Linked DNA regions of Homo sapiens. The protein of the gene in region 2 purifies or fractionates together with the protein of the main gene of each other region. This does not show direct contact. Each region holds a gene or a part of one and is shown on either strand. Other genes may lie near its edges. The genes, in order: PLXNA4 and XDH.

Region 1 (3,818 bases), on a different chromosome or scaffold from region 2:
ACTCCCACACTCTCCCTCTCTCTCTCACACACACACACATACAATCATTACCTATGTGAGATGAATGCCAGGCAGTGAAAACGCTTTCCATGGGAAATGCCTAACTTCACTCTCCAGGTCACTACCCAGTGGTGGAAACCATGGATTTACAGTCTAATTAGAAATCCTCAGCCTTTTCTTGGATGGCAAAGTTTTCTCTTCCCAAGAGAAAATTTGTTTCAACCGTCCAAAGTTTAGGGAGATGTGTCTTAATAACTCAAGCTTCCTTTGTTAATTTGATAAAGAACATTTATCTTTGTCAGTTATATTGAAGCCTCTTATTCAAGCAGTTGGAGAAAAAAAAATTGAGAAGGTGAATGTCATTACTCACATATTTTGCAAACATCCATCTTGATCTGTTATGTGCAACCAAAAAGTGCCACTTGTGGGAAACATGTCCACAAACCTGTCAGAGTGGCATTCACACTTTTTGAATTTGTTTCTTTATGAAATATACACCTGAAGGCAGATCACAAGGCCACTGTCGCTAAAGTTTTGTGAGAATTCGCAGTCATTTCTGGGAGTCTCAAAAGCAAATGACAAGGACAAGAGGCAGGCGGTGCCTCTGAAAGTTGGGGTCACAAGTCCCTACAAGTCCCTATTTTATCAGTACAGTGAATTCATTCTTCTGGTTTTTTCACCTCTGAAGTAAACCAAAACTTGAAAGCTTCCAGTTGAAGGTCACCATCTCCCAAAATGCCTTTCTATGGAACCGTCTTTCCAGGAGACATCAATAGGCTTAAATACTCCCACACAAACGGATCCCCATGGCCCAATAACCTGAAAAGCAGTGGGCAAAGAATAAATAGGTTTCCCAACAACAGGTCTTCTTCACCTTTAATTCGCCCTTATGCATCTCCTGAAGAGGACAAAAGAGAGGATGCTTGCAAAACTTACTTGGTCACAGAATGCTCTTTCCATGGAGGATTTTATAGACTAGTCTTTGGAATGTTCTGCTAAATTCAGCTTGGTCTCCCCCCCACCCCCCGCCGCAATCTATCAGTGCCAAAACCCATAGTGAGTTTTACACAGAGAGAAATAATTTAATTCCATGTGCATCCATGTGCAAGACCACTGCACCTACCTGTCCCCAACCACTATGACCCAGGATGCTGGAGGGTAACTGAGGGGCTCAGCCTGTACCCATCTGGATTCATCTGAATCCTCTGGAATAGCCAGTCAGTCTGACTTGATGTGATCCCTACTCTGTCCCTGCTGCAGAGTAAGAACCCACCATATTAGTCTGGTTCACCCTAGCCTTGATATTTTTAAGGTCATTCTTCTCCACCTTATCCTACTCCATTTATTCCTTCTATTTTTACAGCAAATATTTATCAATTGCTTCCAGTAAGATAGGCTCTGGGTTGGGCAATGAGTATACAAGAAGTAAGAAATGATCCCTCTCAACCTAAAACATAAAGAAATACATGATTCCCACTGTTTTCATTGCCACTGCCAGTAGCAGCTTCTTCACCATTATTAAAAAGCATGAATTGAGTTACTGATGAAACAAAAAACTGCTTGAAGCAGGGGCTGACCCTACCTTCTGGGAGCTGCAACTCTCAGGCAGAAACCCTAATGCAGGCCCACGTCTCTAGGTCAGTGATTTGCTCACATCAATCAGTGGTTAGGGGCAAGTGCATTTAGGGAGGAAGATAGGGTCAGTATCTAATGGACAAGAGAGCAGGGAAAGAGGTCACAAGCACAGCATGACCATTAGTCCTCTCCCCAGCCTGACCCTAAAGGGCCTTCAAAGCACAAGAGTAGTAAAAAACGTTGATGAGGGGCAGGACTAGCTAGAAGCAATGACTTACAGGAAATATTTTATGCAGAAATGTCCCCTGTTGCATTATATTTCAGTGCTTTCATTATTTCTTAAAACTGGGAGGGTGGCAGAGGTCATTACGACCTCCCCCTGCTTCCCAGCAGCCGTGCCATCCCTGAAATAGTCACACACCACTATGCGGAAGGCTGGCTGTTGCTTAGTAAGCCCCAAAACATTAGAAAAGTCTTCAGAAATCGGATTGGCACCCATTCTTAATGTGGTTTCTATTTGGGGTTTAAATGGGATAATAGTGTAGTCGACTAGTGTTGACACAGACTCGTGAATTCTGGGGCTCCTAATTGGAGTACCCTGCCCTGTCTTGCCATCTGACTCTGTTCTGAAGAACTTTATGTTCTTTGCATGGAAACCATTATCCCAGACTCCCAATTTATGTATCTGCCCAAATCTGCTGAGTCCCACCTGACATCACGCCACCCCACCCCAATTCTGAACTGCAGCCATTTTCCTGTTGAATCCTTGTTATCATTGCCACTGCCAGGAGCAGCTTCTTCACCATTATTAAAAAGCAGGAATTGAGCTCTTGATTAAACAAGACACTGCTGGAAGCAGAGGCTGACCCTACCCTCTAGGAGCCGCAACTCTCAGGCAGATGCCCTACCGCAGACCCACGTCTCTAAGTCAGTGAGTTGCTCACATCAATCAGTGGTTAGGGGCAAGCATATGTATTTAGGGAGGAAAACAGAGTCAGTATCTAATGGACAAGAGGCCCCCAGTGACGCTTTCTGCTGTTCCTCTGGCCCTAAAGTTCTTGCTGTCTTTTCTTCCTTCAGAGTCAAAGGCTGGGCTCCTGCAGGGGTAACCCTGACATACCTTCTGCAGGGAGAGCCAAGGAAGCCCCAGCCCCAGGGCCTGACCCACAGAGGCTCTAGCTTGACCTGGTATTCCCAACCCCAAAGTGAGGGGAGTTGACTCATGCCTCGTGGGGTGACTTGTGACCAGTGAGCTACAGCAGACCAGAAGGACCTGTGGATTAACTGCTGGCTGTGCCTCACCACCACAGACTATTCTGAGACATACTGTTCACACCAGGCTTCCCTGGATACCTCCTGAGTGACTGAGCCACCAGCTGCTTTTCACTGGGAAGGCAGGGCCAGCTTGGTAATACACTATTTGTTCTCCTTCCTTCCCTACCTCTCCTCCTTTGCTTCATTTTTGCTTCCCCGGGATCTCACCCCTCAATAAAGTCATAACACATAGCTTCTTCCTTGAGCTCTACTTTCTAGGGAACCCAGGCTGTGACTGGAGTGAAGGACAGACAGGCAGGGGCACAAGGCCCAGGCCCTCCATAGTTTTGACAAGAATAGTCCTGCTTGCATCTGTTCTGTGCACTGGAATTCCATATAAAATTTCACTGGAGCAAAGATTTTCACTGTATACATGTTAAAATATGTTTAATCACCGATCTAGACTAACCTCCTCATTTTATAAACAATAAACTGAAACATAAAATGATTTTTCCCAAAATGCTTTAGTTAGAGTTATCTACATCTATTTGTATCCAAAGCCTAGCTTTTTCCACAACAGTGGTTTTTAAGCAAGGGGACATATTGGAATCATCTAGGAACCTAAGAAAATGGACACGTGCCTAAGTAGCTGTCTCTTTCCTTGGAAAGACAAGGGACAGGATAGGCTCTGAAGAAGGCTGAGCAAATGCTGAGGCCAGAGGTGGACTCTGTACCTATCTGGCACAATTCTGCTTGAGAATCTATTGCTCACACAATCACCAGAATCCAGTACTTGGTTTACGTAATGCAAAGGTTCAGTGGAAATTTTCACTGTAGAAGCCACCCCTTTATTCACATTTGACAGTAGTCATAGCAAAGTGCTTGTCTTAGTCCAGTGTTTCTCAGTGGATTCCAGGTCCACTACACAGTTTATATACTTTTGTGATTTCACAATCCATGTGAGTGTATTAAAGGCTCTGAGAAGTCCT
Region 2 (3,818 bases):
ACATTTACAGGCACCATAGTCATATTACAGCATCCGCAGGAATTATAGGCATAAGAACAAACAGGAATTAAAACATTTTCTAGCATAGGTTGGTTTTTCTCCCCCTCAAAGTATAGATCAGAGACCACCTATATCAGAATCACTAAAGATACTTGCTGAAAATGCATGTTCCAGGGCCCTAAGCCACACCTATTGGAGCAAAATTTCTAGGCGTGGGCCCCAGAAAGGCACATTTTTATCATGGGCCTCAGTAATTCCCAAGCATGGTAAAGTATGACAGTCAATGGCAAGGGTCACAATATGTCCCAGCTTCCCCACCCACTATGGTAAAGTAAACCACGAGATGAGCAAATGGATGTTTCTTTGGTTACCAAGGATTAGTTGCCTTCCTTCTTCAAACTAGGATTATATGCATCAGCTAAATCAATTTTCAACCATTTTTTCATACTTACTGCAGATAAGGAAGAAATAGAAGACACAATCCTCCAGGCATCTGACCAAGTCTTTTTTTTTTTTTTTTTTTTTTTTTTTGAGACAGAGTCTCGCTCTGTCGCCCAGGCTGGGGTGCAATGGTCCAGTCACGGCTCACTGCAGCCTCTGCCTCCCAGGTTCAAAAGATTCTCGTGCCTAAGCCTCCTGAGTAGCTGGGATTACAGGCATGTCCCACCATGCCCAGCTAATTTTTTTTATTTTTAGTAGAGATGGGGTTTTGCCATGTTGCCCAGGCTGGTCTCGAACTTCTGAGCTCAGGCAATCCACCCACCTAGGCCTCCCAAAGTGCTAGGATTACAGGCATGAGCCACCGCACCCAGCCTGATCAAGTCTTAAGGTCGAGTATTGGCAACTGAAGGAGGTAAAAGGGTGTGTACAAAGGTGCTATCCCATTGGCAGTGAATGTGCTGATTGTCATTGGACCATACTAATGCTGTACCTGTAAAATCATCTCTTAGGATCAAGCACCAGTGACGTACGCCTGAGATATGGGTGTGGGCCAGGATTTAAATGAGAAGATTTGATGAAGGAATCCCTCTAAATTCACCCAAAGAAGTGGGCTTCAGACCATACTAAGGTGCTCTCCTCAACCCAATTTAACTGGTTCTCAAGCAGGACTGCCCAACTATCCCACTGCCCCTACCAAGGTCAGTGTCAAACCATCTTCCCTCCTCAAGATATGCCCTTTGAAGTCCCACCAGGTGGGTCACTGAGGCCTCTCATCACCCGCTGGGGCCTCCCCCAGGGCAGATCAGAAGAGACAGCACAGAGCCAGAGCAATGGTACCTTCGATGCATAGATGGCCTTCTTGTTGGGGCAGTCGCGGAGCAGGGACACCCTGAACTCAATGGGGATGCTGCCAAATGCCGGGATCTTGTAGGTGCTAGGGCCACGGGTGTGCAGGCTCCCCTCGGGGGAATAGTGTAGCTCCTCTAGGGTGAAGAGGCCAAGGCCCTGGACAAATGCCCCTTCCACCTGCAGGATGGATGGAGAGCACAGTTAGCCTGCCACCTTCTTCCCTGAGGACAGATACCACTTGCCACAATGGACACAAAGCGCCAACTGCAGCGCGGCCTGGAATGTAGCTAAAACTGCCCTCTATTGCTTACCTGGCTCCCGCCTCAGCCCTGGGATAACCCATCCGGACTTCTGCCAGGCTTTGGCTCAGGCAGAGCAAAGACATTAACACGGAAGGTCAGTGATTCTAGGTGGGCATGTTTCCCACTACAACCTGCCGCAGTGCAGATGGAGATGTTCCTTCCATGTTGCTACTGGGGAAATGGTGAGCCAAAGCTAAGAAGCAAGCTCACAGGAGGATTTATTCGATAGTAGATTCTTTGAGACTTACCTCCAGCCTTTTTGAACGCCCACCCCTGCCTGTCCTCTGGGAGAAAGTGCCCCCACTGCAGTTCAGCTTACAGGTCTCTCCTAGGGTAACTGCCATGATAGACAGGCCCACACATCTGCTCTCTCAGCCCCCTGCTCAGAAGCGTGACATGGGGCACTACCATACCTCAACGAGCATTCAGAAAAGAAACCGACTGGCAATCATCTTTGGGTCTGCAGTACTGGCTTGGTGCCTGGCCACAGTAGGGGACCATAAATGGTTGTTCAATGAATTAATGAACAGATTGACTAATGGCCAGATTTTCGTATACTCAGTAGTTGTCCATTTTTTAGAAGTACAATTTGTATTTTCTACCAGATGCTCAGTCTTGAATTCTTGATTCCTCCTCTGTTTTTTCCTATCTCACCTATTCTTTATTTTATTTTATTTATTTTTTTGAGACTGAGTCTTGCTCTATCGCCCAGGCTGGAGTACAGTGGTGGGATCTTGGCTCCCTGCAAACTCCACCTCCCAGGTTCAAGCAATTCTCCTACCTCAGCCTCCTGAGTAGCTGGGATTACAGGTGCATGCCACCACACCCAGCTAATTTTTGTATTTTTAATAGAGACGGAGTTTCGCCATGTTGTCCAAGCTGGTCTCGAACTCCTGATCTCAGGTGATCTGCCTGCCTCGGCCTCCCAGAGTGCTGGGATTACAGGTGTGAGCCACAGGTCCCAGCCCTATTTCACCTATTCTTCATAGTAATCCCATATTCTCCTAAAGCGATTTTCTCTGGGACCTCCCTTTACTACTTCTGCTTAAGCCTTTGTGTTTTGCTCCCAGGGCCTTCCACCACTCCATGTTTGGCAGCATCTGCTTCCTGGGGTACAAAAGCTGTCCTAGGTGGAGGAGGAATGAGAAGACAGAAAACTCTTCTGACCTCAGACCCCACTGTCTGGGCATTGATCCCAAACTCAATCCCCATTCTACGTTGTGCTCACACTCAAATTGGGTGTGTGTGCATGTTCACATGTGCATGCCATGTTTCCTCATTTCTCATCTTGTTTTTGAGTTGTGAGTGCCCTTCCCAAGTTGACCCATATTAATTTGCTTTCTGCCTTGAGGGTTGGTTGGACTATCACCAATCTAAATTCTACTTTGGGGGAAACTCCCTAGGTTCCATGTTTCAGCCTGTTTGAAGACAACCTTGGACAACATGTTGTGGCAGGTGGCCCCAGGAGGGGAATGGGGTGCATCGGTGGCCAAGTCTGTCACCACCCTGGTCCCACTGAGCCTCACCTGTCCAATATCAATGGCAGGGTTTAGACTGGAGCCAACATCCATGACAATATCTGTGCGGAGGTTCTAGAGTAGACAGCAAAATTACAAGAAGTTAGAGGAGGAAAAGATGTTTGGAATATGACAGATGACTCATAGTGACCCTCAGACTACAAGTGCCAACCAAAGAGTACGTTCCCAAGCAGAAAGCCCTGGGTGTGCTCAGGCAGAAGTGTTGATGTTCCCACCAAATCTCTGCTGCCACCATCCCCGCTGGAGTCTGAGTTTGTAGCAGCCGGGTAGGAAGTGGGGAGCAGCAATGATCTCTCAGTAACTGGGAATAACACACATTCATACGTGAGTAGTCAGATAGGGTCCCAGAAACCTGGGGCTTTGAATCTGAGTCTGGGTAGATCATGTACAAAAGAGTCAATATACTACGTTCCATGGGCTAAATCCAACTTGCCCCTGTTTTCGTGGGGCCTGTAGGCTAATAATTACATTATTAAATAACTGGAAAAATAAAAAGAAGAATATTTTGTGACAAGTAAAAATTGTATGAGATTCAATTCAAATTCAAATTTCAGTGTCTATAAATCATATTTTATTGGAACAGAGTCACACTTATCTGTTTACAAGCTGTCTATGACTGCTGTCACACTTCAATGGTAGAGTTCAGTAGCTGAGGCAGAGACTGTATGGCCCACGAAGTCTAAAACAC

The links.
Region 1: the proteins of XDH (region 2) and PLXNA4 purify together in Homo sapiens (co-immunoprecipitation; one large-scale study listed by IntAct). This does not show direct contact.

The regions. Positions count from the first base shown.
Region 1 is NC_000007.14:132,566,280-132,570,097, forward strand, and holds part of PLXNA4 (plexin-A4 isoform 1 precursor), read right to left. Parts: intron 1-3,818. UniProt on the Homo sapiens protein: Coreceptor for SEMA3A. Necessary for signaling by class 3 semaphorins and subsequent remodeling of the cytoskeleton. Plays a role in axon guidance in the developing nervous system. Class 3 semaphorins bind to a complex composed of a neuropilin and a plexin.
Region 2 is NC_000002.12:31,338,211-31,342,028, forward strand, and holds part of XDH (xanthine dehydrogenase/oxidase), read right to left. Parts: intron 3,185-3,818; coding exon 3,119-3,184; intron 1,468-3,118; coding exon 1,279-1,467; intron 1-1,278. UniProt on the Homo sapiens protein: Key enzyme in purine degradation. Catalyzes the oxidation of hypoxanthine to xanthine. Catalyzes the oxidation of xanthine to uric acid. Contributes to the generation of reactive oxygen species. Has also low oxidase activity towards aldehydes (in vitro).